Linked DNA regions of Homo sapiens. The protein of the gene in region 2 interacts with the protein of the main gene of each other region in a pairwise test. Each region holds a gene or a part of one and is shown on either strand. Other genes may lie near its edges.

The links.
Region 1: the proteins of KIF3A (region 2) and MAP3K10 interact in a two-hybrid assay, tested with the Homo sapiens proteins (one study listed by BioGRID).

The regions. Positions count from the first base shown.
Region 1 is NC_000019.10:40,199,384-40,209,574, reverse strand, and holds part of MAP3K10 (mitogen-activated protein kinase kinase kinase 10), read right to left. Parts: intron 5,091-10,191; coding exon 4,942-5,090; coding exon of another isoform or gene 4,918-4,941; intron 4,455-4,917; coding exon 4,279-4,454; intron 3,665-4,278; coding exon 3,418-3,664; intron 473-3,417; coding exon 356-472; intron 1-355. UniProt on the Homo sapiens protein: Activates the JUN N-terminal pathway.
Region 2 is NC_000005.10:132,697,411-132,707,601, reverse strand, and holds part of KIF3A (kinesin-like protein KIF3A), read left to right. Parts: intron 1-1,142; coding exon 1,143-1,151; intron 1,152-3,982; coding exon 3,983-4,139; intron 4,140-4,536; coding exon 4,537-4,717; intron 4,718-4,933; coding exon 4,934-5,044; intron 5,045-5,389; coding exon 5,390-5,515; intron 5,516-6,901; coding exon 6,902-6,955; intron 6,956-7,317; coding exon 7,318-7,386; intron 7,387-8,306; coding exon 8,307-8,431; intron 8,432-10,191. UniProt on the Homo sapiens protein: Microtubule-based anterograde translocator for membranous organelles. Plus end-directed microtubule sliding activity in vitro. Plays a role in primary cilia formation. Plays a role in centriole cohesion and subdistal appendage organization and function.

The DNA.
Region 1 (10,191 bases), on a different chromosome or scaffold from region 2:
CAGGCGTGGTCATGTGTGACTGTAACCACAGCTACTCGGGAGGCTGAGGCAGGAGAATCGCTGGAACCCAGGAGGCGGAGGTTGCAGTGAGCTAAGATTGCACCACTGCACTCCAGCCTGGGAGATAGAGCGAGACTCTGTCTGTCTCCAAAAAAAAAGAAAAAAAAAAAAAAGAAATTATCCTGCTTACTGACTTATTTGTTTACTATCTGTTTCCTGTGATAAGAATGAGGAAAAGGGCCTTGTCTGTCTTCTTTCTTGCTGTTACTCTGGCTTGGTGCCAGGTATAAACATCGTGCTAAAAAATGTTTGTTCACTGACTGACTGACTGGTCAGGGCCTTGGGAGATACTCACGGCGAATGGCCCTCAGCCGGGGGATGATGCTGGGGCTTGCAGGGGGGCTGGCCCCATCGGATCCTTTCCGCTTATCCAGAGTTGGAGAGGCCTGGACTGTGATCTTATGCTCAAAGCCTGCAGAAAGAAAGAGAAGCTTTCCTAAGCAAATGGTTCCAGGGATTACCAAAGGGAATTTTCTTCTGTAGAAGTAGAGAAGGAATTCTAGAATGGGAACACCGCCATTTTTCATTCCTTAATGCAGTGGTTCTCAGAGTGTGGGCCCCAGAACAGCAGCATCACCATCAGCTGAAAATTTCTTGGCAATGCAAATTCTTGGGCCCTCCCTGAATCAGCAAGTTGGGGTGAGGCTCAGCAATGGACTGTGGTTTAATAAGTACAAGCACAAGAGCTCTTGTGGATCAAGGACCTAGGCCTCAGTGTCCAATATGGCCGCCAGTAGCTACGTGTAGCAGCTGAGCACCTTGAAATGTGGCTTGTGCAATGGGGGAATTGGAGTTTAACCTTTATTTATCTAATTTTTAAACTGTATATATATATATATATAAAGGATGAGTTCTCACTGTGGTGACCAGGCTGGTCTTGAACTCTTGGCCTCGAGCAATCCTCCAGCATCCGCCTCCCAAAGTGCTGGGATTACAGGTGTGAGCCACCATGCCCAGCCAACTCTTTATTTTATTGTAATTACCGCAATTTGAGTTTAAATTTTAAAAACAGGTATGGGGGCTGGGCGCGGTGGCTCATGTCTGTAATCCCAGCACTTTGGGAGGCCGAGGCAGGCGGATCACGAGGTCAGGAGATTGAGACCATCCTGGCTAACACGGTGAAACCCTGTCTCTACTAAAAATACAAAAAAAAAAAAAAAAAAAAAAAAGAAAGAAAGAGCCAGGCGTGGTGGCGGGTGCCTGTAGTCCCAGCTATTCAGGAGGCTGAGGCAGGAGAATGGCATGAACCTGGGAGGCAGAGCTTGCAGTGAGCCGAGATCATGCCACTGCACTCCAGCCTGGGTGACAGAGCGAGGCTCCATCTCAAAAAAAACAAAAACAAAAACAAAAAAACAAACAACAAAAAACAGGTACTCCATTTGGTTATTGGAAACATTTAAGCATGTTTGGAGCAACTTGGGTATGTATATGTACTTTTTCAACTCTAACTTTTATGAAATCTAAATACAGATCCAATATTTTTGATGGGTCAGGTACAGTAGCTCACACCTGTAATCCCAGCACTTTGGGAGGCCAAAGTGGGAGCGCTGCCTGAGCGCAGGAGTTCAAGACCACCCTGGGCAATATAGCAAGACCCCATCTCAGAAAAAAAAAAATTTTTAATGAAAATTTACTGTCCAAATTTAGATGTGCCATAAATATAAAATACATCTGGATTTCAAAGATTTAGTGTGAAAAAAGAAGGTAAAATATCTCACAATTATTTTGTATTGATTGCATGGATATATTGGGCTAAATTAAAAAATATATATATTTTTTGAGATGGAGTTTTGCTCTTGTCGCCCAGGCTGGAGTACAATGGCGCGATCTCGGCTCACTGCAACCTCTGCCTCCCAGGTTCAAGCGATTCTCCTGCCTCAGCCTCCTGAGTAGCTGGGATTACAGGCATGCGCCACCACGCCCGGCTAATTTTGTAGTTTTAGTAGAGATGGGGTTTCTCCATGTTGGTCAGGCTGGTCTCAAACTCCTGACCTCAGGTGATCTGCCCGTCTTAGCCCCAAAAAGTGCTGGGATTACAGACGTGAGCCACCCCACCTGGCCTAATAAAAAATATTAAAATTGACATCTCTTATTTCTTTTTGCTTTTATGTGTAGCTTACTAGAAAATTTAAAATTATACACGTGGCTTGTATTATATTTCCACTGGCCACTGCTGCTTAAGGCACTGCTTTCTGGCTTGTAACATCACAGAAAGAGACAAGTAGACACTACGTGCCTCCCTCCTGAATGCATTACCTGGGAAGCAGTGTGGGGAAAAAAAAAATCAAACCTGAATCTGAATCTGATTAAGTCTTGAGATCCAACTATTAGGTTGATCCATGTGAAACTTCTGTTTTTGTAGGTAAAAAAATGGTCAAATATCAGCATATATATGTATATCTTAATTATATATTTTGTGACAGAGTCTCACTCTGTCACCCAGGCTGGAGTGCAGTGGCACAATCTCGGCTCACTGCAACCTCTGCTTTCCGGGTTCAAGCGATGCTTGTGCCTCAGCCTCCCAAGTAACTGAGATTACAGGCGTGTGCACCACCACACCCAGCTAATTTTGTAGTTTTAGTAGAGGCGGGATTTCACCATGTTCTAGAGCCAGGCTGCTCTAGAACTCCTAGCCTCAAGTGATCTACGCACTTTGGCCTCCCAAAATGCTGGGATTACAGGCGTGAGCCACTGCACCTGGCCAGATTAAAAGATATTTTTAAAGAGAGATAACATGAAAAAGAAAGTTCAGAAGTGACTGTCCTAAGTGTCAAGACAGATGTTCCTCTCAGGGGATGGTGTGAGGTTGTCTGGAGGGGCAGGTAGAAAGCACTTGGGATGGCTGTGAGGTTCTCTCTGCTTTCATGGGGGTGACTAGAGTAACTCATTTGGCTGTACAGGTTTTTGGTCATTTTCTTTTTTTCTTCTTCTTCCCTTTAGAGATAGGGTCTTGCTCTGCTGCCCAGACTGGAGTGCAGTGGTGCAATTACAGCTCACTGCAGCCTCGAACTCCTGGACTCAAGTGATCCTCCCACCTCAGCCTCCCCACTAGCTTGGACTATAAGTGCATGCCAACGTGGCCAGCTAATTAAAAAAAATTTTTTTTTTTTTTGGTAAATATGGGGTCTATGTTGCCCAGGCTGGTCTCAAACTTCTGGCCTCAAGTGATCCTCCCACCTTGGCCTCCTGAGTAGGCTGGGACTACAAGTGCTCGCCACTGCACTGGGCTGATCACTGACTATGTGCGATATATTTAGCAATAAAAACAAGTTGAAAAAGAAAAGGAAGAGATAAATCCTAGGTCGGGGCTGCTCCCAGCAGCCTCTTGGGGGGCGCTCTGGGGACACGGGTGGGTACCAGAGGGCAGGCTGATGTGGCTGCCGCCTTCCCGCAGCTTGAGCAGGCGGCTGCGCTTGAAGTTGCCCTTGCGCTTGCGGACCCGGGGCTTCTCCTGGCTCAGCTGGCACATGAGCAGGTGCAGCTCCCGTTCCACGATGTCCATCTCACGTTCTGCCAGCTCCTGCTCCCGCCGCCGCAGCTGCTCCTCCTGGAAGCGCTGCTCCTGTGCCGCCCGCAGCAGCTCCTCCTCACGGCTCCGAAGCTCCTGGGAAGGAGAGGCGGTGGCTGGGGGGAGGGGCTTAGCTGCTCTGCTTCCTGGGGAGGGACCCAGGGCTGCTGCGTCTGGTTGGTGCCTCACACAAGGGTACCTTGCTGTGGGGTACACTGGTTTCACCACCCGACTCATGCTTTGCTAGCCAAGCTGGGTGCCAGGGCAGGGAACTGTGTTAGCTCAAAGAAAGGGGTGCTTTTTCTTTCTTTTTCTTTCTTAACTCTTCAATTTAGAAAACTTCAAACATCCACAAAAGCAGAGAACAGTGCACCCCCCTGTACCCATCATCCAATTTCAACAATTACCTATGCTTTGCGAATCTTGTATCCCCGTCCTTCTCTCCTCTTGCCCTCTCTTCGTTTCTGCTGTAGTATTTTAAAGCCAACCCCAGACATCATGCAGTGTCACCTGTAAGTACTTCAGTACAGGGTGCCTTTTTCTTATTAATCCACCAACAGGAGGCTGTCTTTTCTTAATATGCAAAAAAGGCTCCCTTGACCCTGCATGGACCCAAAGGCTGGGGTTCAGGGGAGGAGTCTCTGAGCAGCCCAAGGCATCAGAACTCAGGGGTCTTGCTCCATCTTTCCCACCTTGCCCCCTGCCTTCACCTTCTCCTTGGTCCGAAGGTCATCAAACATGTGCTGAATCTCCAGCTTCCAGTCTTCCTGCAGCGAGTGGAAGGACTCCAGTGGCATCTGGAACAGGGCTGACTGTTCGATGACTTCAAGCCGCTTCAAGATGCTACCGAAATCTGGCCGCCCGTGGGGGTCTGGGTCCCAGCATTCTGGGGTGGGAGGAGGAAGGACAGTGGTGGGGCATGGAGGTGTCAGTGGTCATGCTCTGGGGACTCAGCCTGCTCAGAGGAAGGCAGAATTTCTGGGGATGGCAGACAAACAGCTGCTATGGAGCTGAGGGGAAGGGATTCAAAGCCAAGCTCCTGGCCAATTCCACTCAGTGAAACGCTGGGAGAGAAACCCTGGGACCTGCACCCCGAGGAGGGGCTGGTAGTGGAATCAGGATCAAGGTGGAATCCCAGGGCCAAGGAATCCTAACAGGTTGTCCTGAGAGCTCTGGGCCTGGCCCAAACAAGGGCTGGGATGTGGGGGATGGAGCCAACCATGGGGAGGCTGTTTAGAGTCCAGTGGGTTCCAGCCCCTTCTTCCTCACTCCTGGGCCCACTGGTATGGATAGGTGTGAAGGGGAAAGGTCTGGGCCCACAGGTCCCTGCCACTCCAAGCTGAGCCTACCCTCGTCACGGGGCCCCGGCTCACCCTCCAGGAGGCGGGCAAAGGGCTCGGGGCACGTGGAGGGAATGGGCAGCGTCAGCTTATTCATAGCCACGCCATACGCCACGGCCAAGGCGTCGATCTCACGGTAGGGGACCTCCCCCGTCAGCAGCTCCCACAGCAGCACCCCGAAGCTGCAGGCAGGGGAGAGGGAGGGGTGATGTCGCAGCCCACCCCAATCCTCACCTATACCCAGCCCTGCCCTTGGTCCCATGCAGGGCTGCCCTCACCCCAACAGCCACCCCCGGCCAATGAGGTCACAAGAACTTGCTTTGACCTCCATGGCCTTGTTCTCCAATAGATGGGGTGGGTTTGGCTCTCTGATGTCTCTCCTTTGCTCGGCCTGTCTTCCCTCTCCCCTGCCTGAAAATCTTCAGGTCCCGTGTTCCTACTGGCCAAATCCATCTTTCTTATTTTTATTTTTGTAGAGATGGAGGTCTCACTATGTTGCCCAGGCTGGTCTCAAACTCCTGGGCTCAAGTGATCCTCCTGCCTGGGCTTCCCAAAGTGCTGGGATTACAGGCATGAGCCACTGCATCCCACCTAAATCCATCCTTCTTGGCCCTGGCCTTTGATGACCCCTGCAGCCTCACTTCCAAACACTCTCAGCCCATTCTAACCCCAACTTCATCTTGCAGCCACACTGAATACTGAGCAGGCCCTGTGCTTTCTAACCTCTGGCCTTCACACATGCTGTTCCCTTTGTGGAGAACACTCTTCCCTTGTGTAACTATTTGTCCCTCAAGTCTCAACACAGGTTGCCCCCTCTGTCAGGAAGCCTTCCTTGATTCCACAGCCTCCAAAGCTAGGTTAGAGGCCCCTCCTCTACGTTTCCCCAAAACACTCAGCACTTACCTCTAAAAACCAGTTAACATTATTTAACATTTATAAAGCACTTACTGCAGGCCAGGCACTGTGCTAGGCACTCGGTAATCCTCACAACAGCCCTGTAAGGCAGAAGGATTTGGTATGACCCCTGCTTTAGCTGATGAGCAGGTACACGCTCAGAGAGGTAAGGGGCTTGCCCAAGGTCACACAGCTAGTGAGTGGTGGAGCCACACTTGGACTCAGGTCTGCCTGCTGCCCACGACAGTGCTCTCAGTGGCTCCATGGTACCAGAGCGTGCGTCACTGTGCTGTGGTCCCTGCAAGGCTATCTTCCTCTGCAAACTCTACATCCTCCCAGATCCTGATGGCCATTCTGTGTGGTGTTTATCCTGGAGTAGATCCCTGGTCTCCCCACTATCCACTCATGCATTCATTCAACATATCCTTTTTTTTTTTTGAGACAAAGTCTCTGTCACCCAGGCTGGAGTGCAGTGGCATGATCTCGGCTCCCTGCAACCTCCGCCTCTTGGGTTCAAGTGATTCTTGTGCCTCAGCCTCCCAAGTAGCTGGGATTACAGATGTGCACCACCATCCCAGCTAATTTGTGTATTTTTAGTAGAGATGGGGTTTCACCATGTTGGCCAGGCTGGTCTCCAACTCCTGACCTCAGGTTCCGCCTGCCTCAGCCTCCCAAAGTGCTGGGATTACAGGCATGAGCCACTGCGCCCGGCCCATTCAACGTATACTTATTAAGTGCCTACTGTGTGCCAAGCACCATTTTAGACATTGGGAAGAGATAGACACAATCACTGCCCCCATATGCAGCTGACAGCCTCCCATTCTTCAGTGACAGTGCTGGTGAATTGAGCTGGCCACATGCTGCCTGCATGAATTTTCCATTCTCCTTTGCAGCTAAGCATGCCACATGACCACAGTTCTGGTACATGGGATGTAGGAGGGGGTGTAGTAGGCAACTAGCTTCCAGGAAGTATCCTCAAAAAGAAGGGGTGCCCGGCCGGGAAAGAGTGTGAGGTGGGATGATGGCTTGAGCCCAAGAGTTCAAGGCTGCAGTGAGCTATGACTATACCACCACATTCTAGCCTGCGTGGGAGAGTGAGAGCCTGTCTTTTAAAAATTTTTTTAAATGAAAAATAAATTTATAGTGGGTTAATTTTATATTATTTATATCTTAAATAAGATGAAATCTGTCCCCAAACACCCTATCCTGTAAAGACTATTGTTCAAAGAAGGAACAGAATGGACCCCAAAATAAGAGGTGAAAATCCCCACATACACTCTAGTCATGCCAAGGGCAGCCTGACAGGCAAGGCTTCTTGCTTCCTGTCTCAACTTATCCCTGTCCTGCGAAGCCGCGGCAGGACACATCTGCAGCTCAGCACAGCAGACAGGCACAGGAGCGCAGGAACAAAAACAACATGGGTAAGAAAATGAGGCCGGGCGCGGTGGCTCACGCCTGTAATCCCAGCACTTTGGGAGGCCGAGGCGGGCGGATCACAAGGTCAGGAGATTGAGACCATCCTGGCTAGCACGGTGAAACCCCGTCTCTACTAAAAATACAAAAAATTAGTCAGGCGTGGTGGCGGGCGCCTGTAGTCCCAGCTACTCGGGAGGCTGAGGCAGGAGAATGGCGTGAACCCAGGAGGCGGAGCTTGCAGTGAGCTGAGATCGTGCCACTGAACTCCAGCCTGGAAGACAGAGTGAGACTACGTCTCAAAAAATAAAAAGAAGGGGTGCCATTTTCCTTTTTTCCCCTTCTTGTGGTTGGAATGTAGACATAAAACCTGGAGCCTGGGGGGTGGGGGACAAGGGGAGGGAGAGCATTAGGCAAATACCTGACACACGCGGGGCTTCAAACCTAGATGATGGGTTGATGGGTGCAGCAAACTACCATGGCACATGTATACCTATGTAACAAACCCTGCACGTTCTGCACATGTATCCCAGAACTTAAAATTAAAAAAAAAAAAAAAAAAAAAGCTGGCGTGTGGAGCTAGGCACAGTGGCTCACGCCTGTAATGTCAGCACTTTGGGAGGCCAAGACAAGAGGACCTCTTGAGCCCAAGAGATCGAGACCAGCGTAGGAAACAAAGTGAGACCTCGTCTCTACAAAAAATTAGCCTGGTGTGGTGGCATGCCTGTAGTCCCAGCTACTAGAGAGGCTGAGGTGGGAGGATCACTTGAGCCCAGGAGGTTGAGGCTGCAATGATTTGTGACGGCATCACTGCACTCCAGCCTGGGTGACAGAGCAAGACCCTGTTAAAAAAAAAAAAAAAAAAAAGGCTGGGTGCGGTGGCTGACGCCTGTAATCCCAGCACTTTAGGAGGCCCAGGTGGGCAGATCATGAGGTCAAGAGATCAAGGCTGTCCTGGCCAATATGGTGAAACCCCGTCTCTACTGAAAAATTAAAAAAAATAAATAAATAATACAAAAATTAGCTGGGCCTGGTGGCATGTGCCTGTAGTCCCAGCTACTTGGGAGGCTGAGGCAGGATAATTGCTTGAACCCAGGAGGCAGAGGTTTCAGTGAGCCAAGATCGCGCCGCTGTACTCCGGCCTGGGCGACAGAGCAAGACTCCAGCTCAAAAAAAAAAAAAAAACAAAAAACGCTGGAGCTCAAGCAGTCATTTTGGATCATGAAGTAAACTTCAGAATGGAGACCATACAAGGTGGGGGAGAAACAGTGGTTTATAACTGGAGGGTAGCATGATCCACCCCTCTCTCCCATGTCCTTGGAAACCTATGGGGTTACTGTGATTGTAATAATGACTGAGAATGTTACTGAAGTTTATGGCGGGGAGGTGTGGATATCCTGCATCCTGCTAAGTACAGGACAGGACCACATCAGAAAGAATTAGCCTGCCCGGCCGGGTGCAGTGACTCATGCCTGTAATCCCAGCACTCTAGGAGGCTGAGGCGGGCGGATCACCTGAGGTCAGGACTTCAAGACCAGCCTAGCCAACATGGTGAAACCCTGTCTCCACTAAAAATATAAAAATTAGCCAGTGCATGCCTATAATCTCAGCTACTCGGGAGGCTGAGGCACAAGAATCACTTGAATCTGGGAGGAGGAGGGTGCAGTGAGCTGAGATTGTGCCATTGCACTCCAGCCTGGGCGGCAGAGTGAGACTCTGTCCCAAAAAAAAAAAAAAAAAAAAAAAAGGTAGCACAAATGAACGCCTGATGTACAGCCAGTTGGAAATTCTCCCAAAGGGCTGCTCTGCTCTAGGCTGAGCTGGAGACTTCCTGTCTGATCTGTCTCAGTCCCATACCCATTAATTTGCTGCTTGGACAATCTGGAGCCTCAGCTGGGAATTGACGGGAACAGTAAATGGGGAGACCCAGGTTTGGCTCCAACCAAGCAGAAGGTCCTGGGTTGAAAGTCTCCATGGCCACCATCAACTCTCACTGGTGACAGCAACAGACCCATCATTGGCTGTCTCTACCTAACAGTCAAAGGAGCTTTTATTTTTAAGTATTTTTTTTCAGATGGAGTCTTGCTCTGTCACCCAGGCTGGAGTGCAACGGCGCCATCTCAACCTCTGCCTCCTGCAGTCAAGCAATTCCCCTGCCTCAGCCTCCTGAGTAGCTAGGACTACAGGCACCCACCACCATGCCTGGCTAATTTTTGTATTTTTAGTAGAGATGGGGTTTCACCATGTTGGCCAGGCTAGTCCTGAATGAACTCCTGGCCTCAAGTGAACCACCCACCTCGGCCTCCCAAAGTGCCAGGATTACAGGCGTGAGCCACCGCGCCTGGCCGAATTTTTGTATTTTTAGTAGAGGTGGGATTTCACCATGTTGGCCAGGCTGGTCTCAAACTCCTGGTGTCAAGGGATTCACCCACCTGGGCCTCCCAAAGTGCTGGGATTACAGGCGTGAGCCACCGCACCCGGCCTCCAAAGGAGTTTTTATTTACTTCCTTTTATAAAAATTAATTTAAAAATTTCTTTTTCATATACATGGGGTCTCACTACATTGACCAGGCTGGTCTCAAATTCCTGGCCTCAAGTGATCCTCCCACCTTGGCCTCCCAAAGTACTGGGATTATAGGTGTGAGCTACCACTCTATTCAGACATGGCTCCTCATGGCTTCCTACTTCATTAGAATAAAACCTGAAGGCCACTCCCTCACCCACAGGGCCTTCCAGCTCCCTCTCCTACATAATTTCCTACCTCTCTCTTCCTTGCCTGCACAGTGGCAGCCACATGGGCCTCTTTGCTGTTTCTGGGACACACCATGCTCACCTCAGCACCTCCTTCTTCCTCCAAACTTTTCGTGACTGGTTCCTTTTTGCCACTTGGAACTCAGATGAAGTATCATTTCTCAGATTGCTCAGAGAAGCGTTCCCAAAAGTAGTCTTCCAGCCCTTAAAGTGCCTTCCTCTCAG
Region 2 (10,191 bases):
ATTGCATTAGAAACCACATAGAGGTATTACTTTGTATAATAAACTGTGAAATATGCGAAAATATTTGAGTGGGAGGCGTTGCAATTTAGTTTTCTGTTTTAAAACTTAATTCTTAAAGAGTAGTTATATGAAAGTATGTTATGAAATGAGTTGTACTTTGTTCAATTCAAGAAGTTTTAATTCCTATTTGCGTACCTAGCACATAATTTTTTTCTTGTAATGTGGGCGTGTTGGTGAAGTGGAGAGATGGTTGTCCTAGCATGTGGTTGCTGTGTGTACCTTCCCTTTTAAATATCTCAATGGCCTTTTTAAAAGGTGTTTCTTGCTTGAGTCCTTAATTGGCAGTGACTCCTGTAGAATCATTGTTTATAATTACCCTTAAAAATCTACTAATAGAAGGAATGTAAGTTTGTTACTGTACAGGTATACTTCATTTTATGTAATAATTTTATTTTCTGGAAAAAAAAAAAAGCCCTTAATCCGGTTGGGAAATCGGATGTATTGGGAGAACTTGTGTCTTTAAAAATTCTTCATTAGACCTTTCTGTTAATCAAATAATCAGTGGAAATTACTGTAATCTAATTTATCTGTTGGATTGGTTCAGGTTTTTGTGTTAGATTTTCTTAAAGTGAAGCATGCCTATAATAGATCCATATACTAAAAGAAATATTGAATTGGGACATTTTTGATATGGACAGTGTGAATTTTGTCACTTTAAATGTACTAGTTGTTAAAATTGCCTTAATTTTCTGTTTTGCCCTTTTAGATTACTTCCCAGATCTTAGCAGGTTCCTAATTCCATGTCTTCTGTTAGCATAACCACATGGTGTTGAACTGTGACCTTTGCAGGACTTGGGGAATCAGTGTGAGATCTTGAGATTGACTTGAGTTATAATCTAAGACTAAGTTAACTTTAATATTCTTGCTTAAATGACATCTCTCGTTGTGTTGAATATGCTTTCTTTTTACATGGGCTCTATTTCAGTTTTGATAACGGTTTGATTTTTATTTCTACACTTAAATGAATGCTATTATATATTTTTCTTTGTTTCACAAGAGAAATAATGTTTTCCTTTTTTTCCTCCTCATCTCTGTGCGTATTGCTTCCTGTCTGCGATTTGCTTACTACTTCTTATTGCAAGATCAAGCAGGTTGGTGTGATTGATTTGCACTCCACATGGTACAATTATTTATCCTATAAAGAACTATGTTATTTAAATACATTAAATTTTTAAAATTTAGTAGTTTTTTTACCAGGTAAGTATCTATCTTTTGTATTTTTAACAATCTTTCAACTTTAGCTTTTAAAAAGAACTTCATTTTTTTCCCTAAATTCTTAAAGACTCATTAAGCCAAAGTTTGGAAATACAAGTGTAAATTATTTCACATTCAAACATTTTTCTCCTTTTTTCTTAAAGCCAAGAATCAAATACCTGGTTATGCCGTGGTTGCTTATGTAATAAAAATGAAATTAATTCAATTAGGACTGCCCTGAAGTTCTTCCCCTTTGACTTACCCTGGCCGGTTAACGTTCACAATATTGGTTAGAGCACATGGCAAAGGGCAATAAAAAAATGTTGCTACTTATGTCTGGTTTAGTTAAATACTGTTTATGGCATTAACTTTTAAAAATATTTATTTACCTGAAATTTTGTGCTGAATTTTATCATGCATTGTTAGAAATAGATTTCTTTTTTGTTTGATTGGTTTAAGAAGGTTTTTTTAAAAAAAAGTCCTTTGAAAAATACATATAAAAGTGACTTTTACTGATGTCACATTTTTAAATACCTGGTTAGGAGAGTTAGCACATATTCACATTTAGCTTAAAATATTATTTGTGGAGAAATATAATGATTTGTCAGAGTGATTCTGGCTAAAGTAATATGTTACTTAAATATTAGGCTTTTGAAACTAACCCTGGCTATATATCTTTGATTGTCTTCATGAAAGTGTTACAAGACCACAATAAGATTTTTGCTGCTAAAGTATCAGTTTGGAAACATACCTGAATGGTTTTAAATTACTAATGTAATGCATTAATGCATGAACAGTTATGTGTCTTTGTATTTCCACATGTAAAATCTTTTTATTTAAAAAACTTTTTATTTTACTGCTTCTTAATGGGTTTTGAAACTGTTTTTAACTATTGAAACAATTAGAACCCTTGAAGCCTGTACATACTACTGTTCATATGTTGATTAGATCATTTCCTCTATACTGTTAGCATCAGTGTCTTCATGCATTTATTATTTTTGTCTTAACATATGTCCCATTTTGTCTTTAAATATTTATAATTCTCAGGTGGAAAGGAAGTTACACTTTTTTAAATGCGTATACTTACTATATACCTGAACTGATACTTTTCTCCTTCAAATTTCTAAGACATAGTATGACTGATGGGATAAGTAGTTTGGGAATAGTAGTTAAATTATTTTAAAGTTATTTTTTAACAGCTAATTCAAAAGATTCAATACAGATGACTGTGCCAAACAAGCCAGTAAATAGAATCAGTCTACATCCTGACTTTTGGAATGCAATGAATCACACCACACCAAAGCATGAATTTGGATCAGTGCTTTTATTTACTCTTTTATTTCATTTGTCTTGTGTCTTAGGTTTGCTCTGGACTTACAGTTCTATACAAATAATGTATTTTAAACCCTAGAGTTTTTTACATAATTTTGTCATAAAGAGTTAAAGCCTATTAATGATTCTTCATTTCATAGTTCCTGAAAAAATATACTCAGTTATATATCTCCATCATAATTATTTTTCAGTTCTTTTTCCTTGTTAGGTGGTGGGGGTTAGCTTTTGGGTGGAGACATTAACAATTTATACACTCTTATGATTTACACTCTTCTTCTGTAGTTCTTTGGGAAGGAAGTTAAGAATGACGGAAAGGTTCTAGGAGAGCCTCAGACCAATTCTGTGAAAAGTGTTATTGGTTTTCTGAAGGAATGTATGTTTCTAAGAAACTGTATGACCAGAAATGAATTGTCTTTGATTCAGTTTCATCACCAGTTTAATAAGCTAGTTTTATTTTCTCTTTTTCATTTGGATTTTGTTATTTTGAAATTCATTAATAAACTTTCTTTGAGCACCTATTACATGTATGTAAAATACTTTATTAGACATTATTAGCAAAAATAATCAATTGGAAGCCATATTCCAGCTTTATTATTTGGTAGTATTTCTACTTATATTTGACACTTGGCATGTTTACTCTGACTTAGGGAGCCTTCGGGTCCTGAGTTTGACATAATAACAAGCTATTTTAGTTGTTCCTTTAGTGTATGATGATATATCTTGACAGCTCAGCAACTGTGAAATGCTTGGTTAATTACTGTGTATGTAACTGTTACATAATTACATAGTATAGAATTTTTTCCTTTAAAAGTATGCTGTGAAATAAAATACTTTAATGTTATTAAACAAAAATTTTAGAAAAACTCTGAAAAATATATTAAAACTACTTGATGTAAATTCTGCCTGATATTTTCATCTGTGCATTTTATACCTATATATGACTTTTATTCACTTGTTTTATGTGAACTTGGGGAAGATATTTTAAGGAGTCGCTTGATTTTATACTTGGTTATCAGGAAAAAGTAACTGAAGAATCATGTTGCTTTTTTTTTAACCTATATTTGTTATCTGGGGACATATATATTTTTTAATTTGGCTTTCCTGTTAATCTTTCTTTTCCTATTATTTAGCTCATCTATTTTGCTTCTCTTTCGCTTTTGTTCTTAGTTATCATTGTACAATTGGACAACAGTTTGAATTTAGCAATGAGTTATAAAGTTCTAGGAGCATAATAAATGGAAATGCATGATATTATTGGTTTGATTTCCTTAAAATATTGATAATTGGTTTTGTATTATTGAGGAGTGTAGGCATTTCTATATTGAAGGAGGTAATTTATATAAGTCTGAAACATTGATTCATTTTAGTGATTGTTGCAATTAAATGATTCAAATAGGAAAAAAGAAAGTCTCCCCAGACAAGATGATTGAAATGCAAGCAAAAATTGATGAGGAGAGAAAAGCACTTGAAACAAAGCTCGACATGGAAGAAGAAGAAAGAAACAAGGCTAGAGCTGAATTAGAGAAACGGGAAAAAGATCTTCTTAAAGCCCAGTGAGTATTATTGAATTGAGATGAATTCATGATTTAAATTTCTGTTTTTTCCTAGGATATATAAAATAGGAAAATTGAATAGTAATTAAAAGCTTGGATTTTTGTCTCCAGTGTAGCTATTTTGGATAGAAGGGTCCATTGTATATAGTGTATTTCTAAAAACTAGATCTATTTTGGTTATTTTATTTCCGTGTGATAGGAAAACATATCAATGAATTAGAATGAGTTATAAATTAAGTTAGAAATCGATACTACACAGTGGTGTAATTTGGCAGAGATGTTACATAATTATATTTCTATTTTGAAATTGTATATCCAAATTTTAAATTTTGGGAAATGATATTAGTAGAATAATAGATCATCAGTGAATATAGAGTATTCTCATTCTAATCAACAGACAAGAGCATCAGTCTTTGCTGGAAAAATTATCTGCCCTGGAAAAGAAGGTAATTGTTGGTGGGGTTGACTTGTTGGCCAAAGCTGAGGAACAAGAGAAACTTCTTGAAGAATCTAACATGGAACTGGAAGAAAGGAGGAAAAGAGCAGAGCAACTTCGCAGAGAACTTGAGGAAAAAGAGGTAATGTGACTTTCTGTTTTTAGTTTGGTATTTTGCCAGAGAGATTTAACTTTTCTAGTGGAAAGCTAAATATCTATAATCGTATTGAAATTTTAAAGCATATTTATGGATTGCTTTGAAGATCAGATTTGCTAAACATTTATGTCATTTGTTAAAGAATTAGATATTTGATTTTACAAAGAAATTTATTCTGAAGTTTACTAATTTTTGTCATAGCAAGAACGCTTGGATATTGAAGAAAAATATACCAGTTTGCAAGAGGAAGCACAGGGAAAGACCAAGAAGTTAAAGAAAGTTTGGACTATGCTGATGGCTGCAAAGTCAGAGGTTGGTTCTCTTAGAAATTACCTACTAATGCAGTTCTGGATTTTTTAAAAGGGAGTTCTTTGATTAAGAATTTATAAATAATCATAATGTGAGCTTATAATTTAAAAGAAATAAAATATTTCTTTATGTGCAATTTTTAATTTTATCTATTAGTCTAAATTGTTTCTTTTCAACCTTAACAAATAGTGTAGAATAGATGCTGATAGTGTCACGCTGTTTATCATTTTTATAAAAGAACTAGGTAAGCTCTCACAAGGTTTCTTAGACAAGCATCCTATGTGAGATGGTGCTGTTTTGTAGTTAAAGTCTTGTTTGTTCATAATATTTTTATGGATTTTCTGGTAGATGGCTGATCTCCAACAAGAACATCAGAGGGAAATTGAAGGCCTACTGGAGAACATTCGGCAACTTAGCCGGGAGCTTCGACTTCAGATGCTTATTATTGATAACTTTATACCTCGGGATTATCAGGTAAAAAGGAAGTTCTCTGACCGAGATAGTCGCTTGACTGGGATTAAGGAACAAAGATTTCTAATTTAACTGATGATAAATACTTAATACTTCAGTTATTGAATGTACAATTTTTTGAACAAATGCCATCACATTTCACTTTAGTTGTTAACTTTTAATACATAATCTCTGTTTGAGTATCTAGCCTTTTAGACGAACTCAGATTCATGTATATGTGATCAGAATCAAGGTGTAGGTCCCATTCCTTCATTCAGCGCCCATTATCATACAAGTAGAATAAATGGAACCTCTGTGCTGCCTTTTTCTCCCTGCTGTGGGTGCTGATTCTTTGTGTGTGTGTGTGTATATGGTAAAATATAGATAACATGAAATTTACCATCTTAGCTATTTTAAGTGTGCAGTTCAATGGCATTTAGGACATTCACATTGTTGTGCAACCTGTACCATCATTCATCTCCAGATGGATGCTAATTCTTAGTACTAGTATAATTTTAAAATCTCAGCCTCTATTTTTTTTAATCCAAAATTTGTCTTTCCAGTGCATTTTGGTAAACTTTAACATGATTTTTTTTTTTTTTTTTTTTGTCAGGGAGACAGAGTCACTTTGTTGCCCAGGCTGGAGTGCAGTGGTGCAATCTCGGCTCCCTGCAACCTTCACTTCCCGGGTTCAAGTGATTCTCATGCCTCTGCCTCCCGAGTAGCTGGGATTACAGGCGTGTACCACCACACCCAGCTAATTTTTGTATATTTAGTAGAGATGGGGTTTAGCCATGTTGGCCAGGCTGGTCTTGAGTTCCTGAGCTCAGGTTGATCTGCCCGTTTTGGCCTCCCAAAATGATGGGATTACAGGTGTTAACCACCATGCCTGGCCAATTTTTTAAAAATCTGTTTTGAATCTCAATACAGTTTTAAGAAATTTGTCTGAAAATAAGTCTTAGTCATTTTTTTTTTTTTTGGACCTCAGGTACATGGAATTAGTCCTGGGTTCATGGTACATTCTCCTTATTGGTCCTTGGATGGCCTGCTTTTATTTAGTTATTTTGTAATGAACTCATCACCCAAAACAATATCTAGGACCCTGATAATAACTACTTCTAACCAGTTTCCCCTTCCCTTATTTCATTCCTTTGCCTCTTCCAACCCAAGGTAATCATTATCTTGATTCCCAAGTTTCTCATTCTGTTGTTTTTTCATTTTCATTTAGTTTTATTTCATCTGCATGCATTCCTAAGAAATATGTATTTTAGAATTTATAAAAAGGTTATATCAGTATATAATGTTTTGAGACTTTTATTACTCAATGTTATTAAGATTTTAGTTTTATGACTTCAATATTTTAGATGTTATTAAATATTAAAAATAGGCTATCTTTCACCCTTTTAAAAGGAAATGATTGAAAACTATGTCCATTGGAATGAAGACATAGGAGAATGGCAGCTAGTGAGTATTACCTTCATTCTTTCACGTAATAATTAAAGAGTACTTCCTATGGTCTAGAAATTGTGCTGGCTACAGTGGGGAGGAACATGGTCCAGTAGATGAATCAGATGAGAATCCAGTAGGGCAGATAAAATATTTTTCTAATTCCATGTAATTAATTGTAACATACAGATCATGGTCTGGGTGGAAATGGTCAGAGTTAGGGGCTATGTGGGACTAAGTGACCTCTGGGGCCCTTTCTGCTCTAGCATTCAAATCATGTTTTACTAGTGTAATGTTAGGATTTCTCAGTTATTTGCCTAACTCACAGTATTGATTACTAATTAAGACATTTCTCTGTCTCTCCCTTTTCTTTTTTTGAGAAATGTGTTGCTTATACAGGAAATAACATGAGGAAGCAAACCCCAGTACCTGATAAAAAGGAGAAAGATGTAAGAGTACTTAAAAAAAAACAAAACAAAACACAAAACTACTGTTGTTTCTTTATAGGAATATGAGTCATTAAATTGTATTATCAACTTGATATCTGTTAATCAGCTCTGCTGAAAAATGGGCTGATACTTTTGGGAATAAAGGCTCTAGGATGGGGTGATGAGGAGGACAGTTCTGCTTACCATCAGTCTTGATGTCAGGCTTATTCCCACCACAAGAGGGGCATGGACTCACTCTTTGGAGTCCTCTTTTCACTACCACTCTGGGTCGTAGGATTATGGGTGGAGACTAGAATGTGTCTTTCTTTCTCTTCAAAGCTAGTTCTAGTCCTAGGTCAAGAAGAAGAGGGAGCGGGCCGGGCGTGGTGGCTCACGCCTGTAATCCCAGCACTTTGGGAGGCCGAGGCGGGTGGATCACGAGGTCAGGAGATCAAGACCATCCTGGCTAACACAGTGAAACCCCGTCTCTACTAAAAAAATACAAAAAAAATTAGCCGGGCGTGGTGGCGGGTGCCTGTAGTCCCAGCTACTCAGGAGGCTGAGGCAGGAGAATGGCGTGAACCCAGGAGGTGGAGCTTGCAGTGAGCCCAGATCGCGCTACTGCACTCCAGCCTGGGCGACAGAGTGAGACTCCGTCTCAAAAAAAAAAAAAAAAGAAGAAGAAGAGGGGGCAGCTTTAAGAAAAACAGCAACAGTTTTTATGTCCAAGGAAATTTATAGTGTGTCAGGGCTTCTTACTCACCAACCTTTATTAAGTACATTTTAGATACTGGGATTAGAAGATGATGTCATTAGACATTTCTTTGGTTTTAGCTTCTGTGGGTTTGATCAAGGAGTTTATTCAGTATTTTAAATCTTCCCCCAAATCTGGCTTTAACTCTTTGCCTTAAGAGTGCTTTGTGTTTGTTTCTTTTACTTAGCCCTTTGAGGTGGACCTTTCTCACGTGTATCTTGCCTATACTGAGGAGAGTCTGCGTCAGTCTTTGATGAAACTAGAAAGACCACGAACTTCAAAGGGGAAAGCAAGGCCAAAGACAGGGAGAAGGTAAGGACTGTCCTTGAATCTGGTAAAACGAAGGCATTGAGGTATTCTAATTAGATACATGTACAGGAAGTTAAAATTTATTTAGTTAAAACATGATACATATTTTGGCTGATTTATTAAAAATCAAATTCCTGGCTGGGCACAGTGGCTCACGCCTGTAATCCCAGCATTTTGGGAGGCCGAGGCAGGTGGATCATTTGAGGTCAGGAGTTTGAGACCAGCCTGGCTAACATAGTGAAACGCTGTCTCTACTAAAAATACAAAAGTTAACCAGGCATGGTGGCGCATGCCTGTAATCCCAGCTACTGGGGAGGCTGAGGCATGAGAATCGCTTGAACCCAGGAGCCGGAGGTTGCAGTTAGCCGAGATCATGAGATCATGCCACTGAACTTCAGCCTGGGTGACAGAGCAAGACTTGGTCTCAAAAAAAAAAAAAAAAAATCAAATTCCTTATGTATTAGAATTTGAGTAAATAAAATCTGGCCAAAGAATTAAGGTCTTCCAACTTCTTAGGCTTCTGAGTAATAGAATTTATTTTTAATTCACTCTGTTATTTCCAAATGTATAATGGGTTTAATTCCTTAATTCTTAGACTAATTCTTCTTATGAAATGCTAATTAATTTGCCTGTTTGGTCTCCCAAGGTATTGTATTCAGCTGGTTAGTTTTTCTGTCAGGTGCCCCAAGAACCTTGATTTCCTCAGTCACCAGCTAAGGAGAACTTCCTTGGACATTTCCCCCTCTCCTTTGGGCACTGGTTTTGACTGTTGGGTAGTCTGCGTGTATCATCACATAAGCTCAGGGAAATCGGGATATGGGAGTCCTGGGCTGGAGCTTATTTTTTTTTCCTTTCCCTTTCCTACATCAAGGACTGTTCAGTTTATTTAAGCTGATTTTAAGACTCTGGGGCTCCTAAAATGTAGGAAATAATAAGCTGCTTTTTTCCCTACTTTGAGTGCATGGACTTTCAAGTTACATGTGGGATGAAGTTGTACGGTTTTGATATCTTTGTGTTACATAATCTCATAGACATGACTTAACACTTATAAATTTGGGATGGTTGAACTCAGGGTTGGGCAAACAGTTGAATATTAAAAATGTACAAATTTTTACATTCTTTAGCATTTAGGTGAGGGGTTAAAAACTTTCCTATACCAACACATGCCAAGCATATTGTAGTGAAGCAAATCAGTTCTAAGAAACATGAGTCCCTTTAGATGTATCTTTTTTTCCATTTTTAATAAAATGACAGTGCAAGTGTGATGATAAATGGTAAGACATTTGTCCCCAGCGTAGGAGAAAAATTGGCAGTGGTGAGCAGTCCTGTCTAAAGTGAGTGGCTGCTATTCTCTTCCTAGTTATCTATGGAAATAGAGGGCTCATTGTTTCTGGATCTTCTGTTTTCTTTTCTTTTCTTTTTTTTGAGATGGAGTCTCACTCTGTTGCCCAGGCTGGAGTGCCCTGAGTAGCTGGGATTACTGGCACCTGCCACCATGCCCAGTTAATTTTAGTATTTTTACTAGAGATGGGGTTTTGCCCTGTTGGCCAGGCTGGTCTCGAACCCCTGACTTCAGGTGATCTGCCCACCTCAGCCTCCCAGAGTGTTATGATTACAGGCATGAGCCACCGTGCCTGGCCTGGATCTTCTCTTTTCTAAGGAAAAGCCAGAAATTCGAATTATTTACTTGAGATCTGTCAATTTTACTTTTTTTTTTTTTAACTATATGGACCCTAAAGCAAATGAATAAATAATATGATATT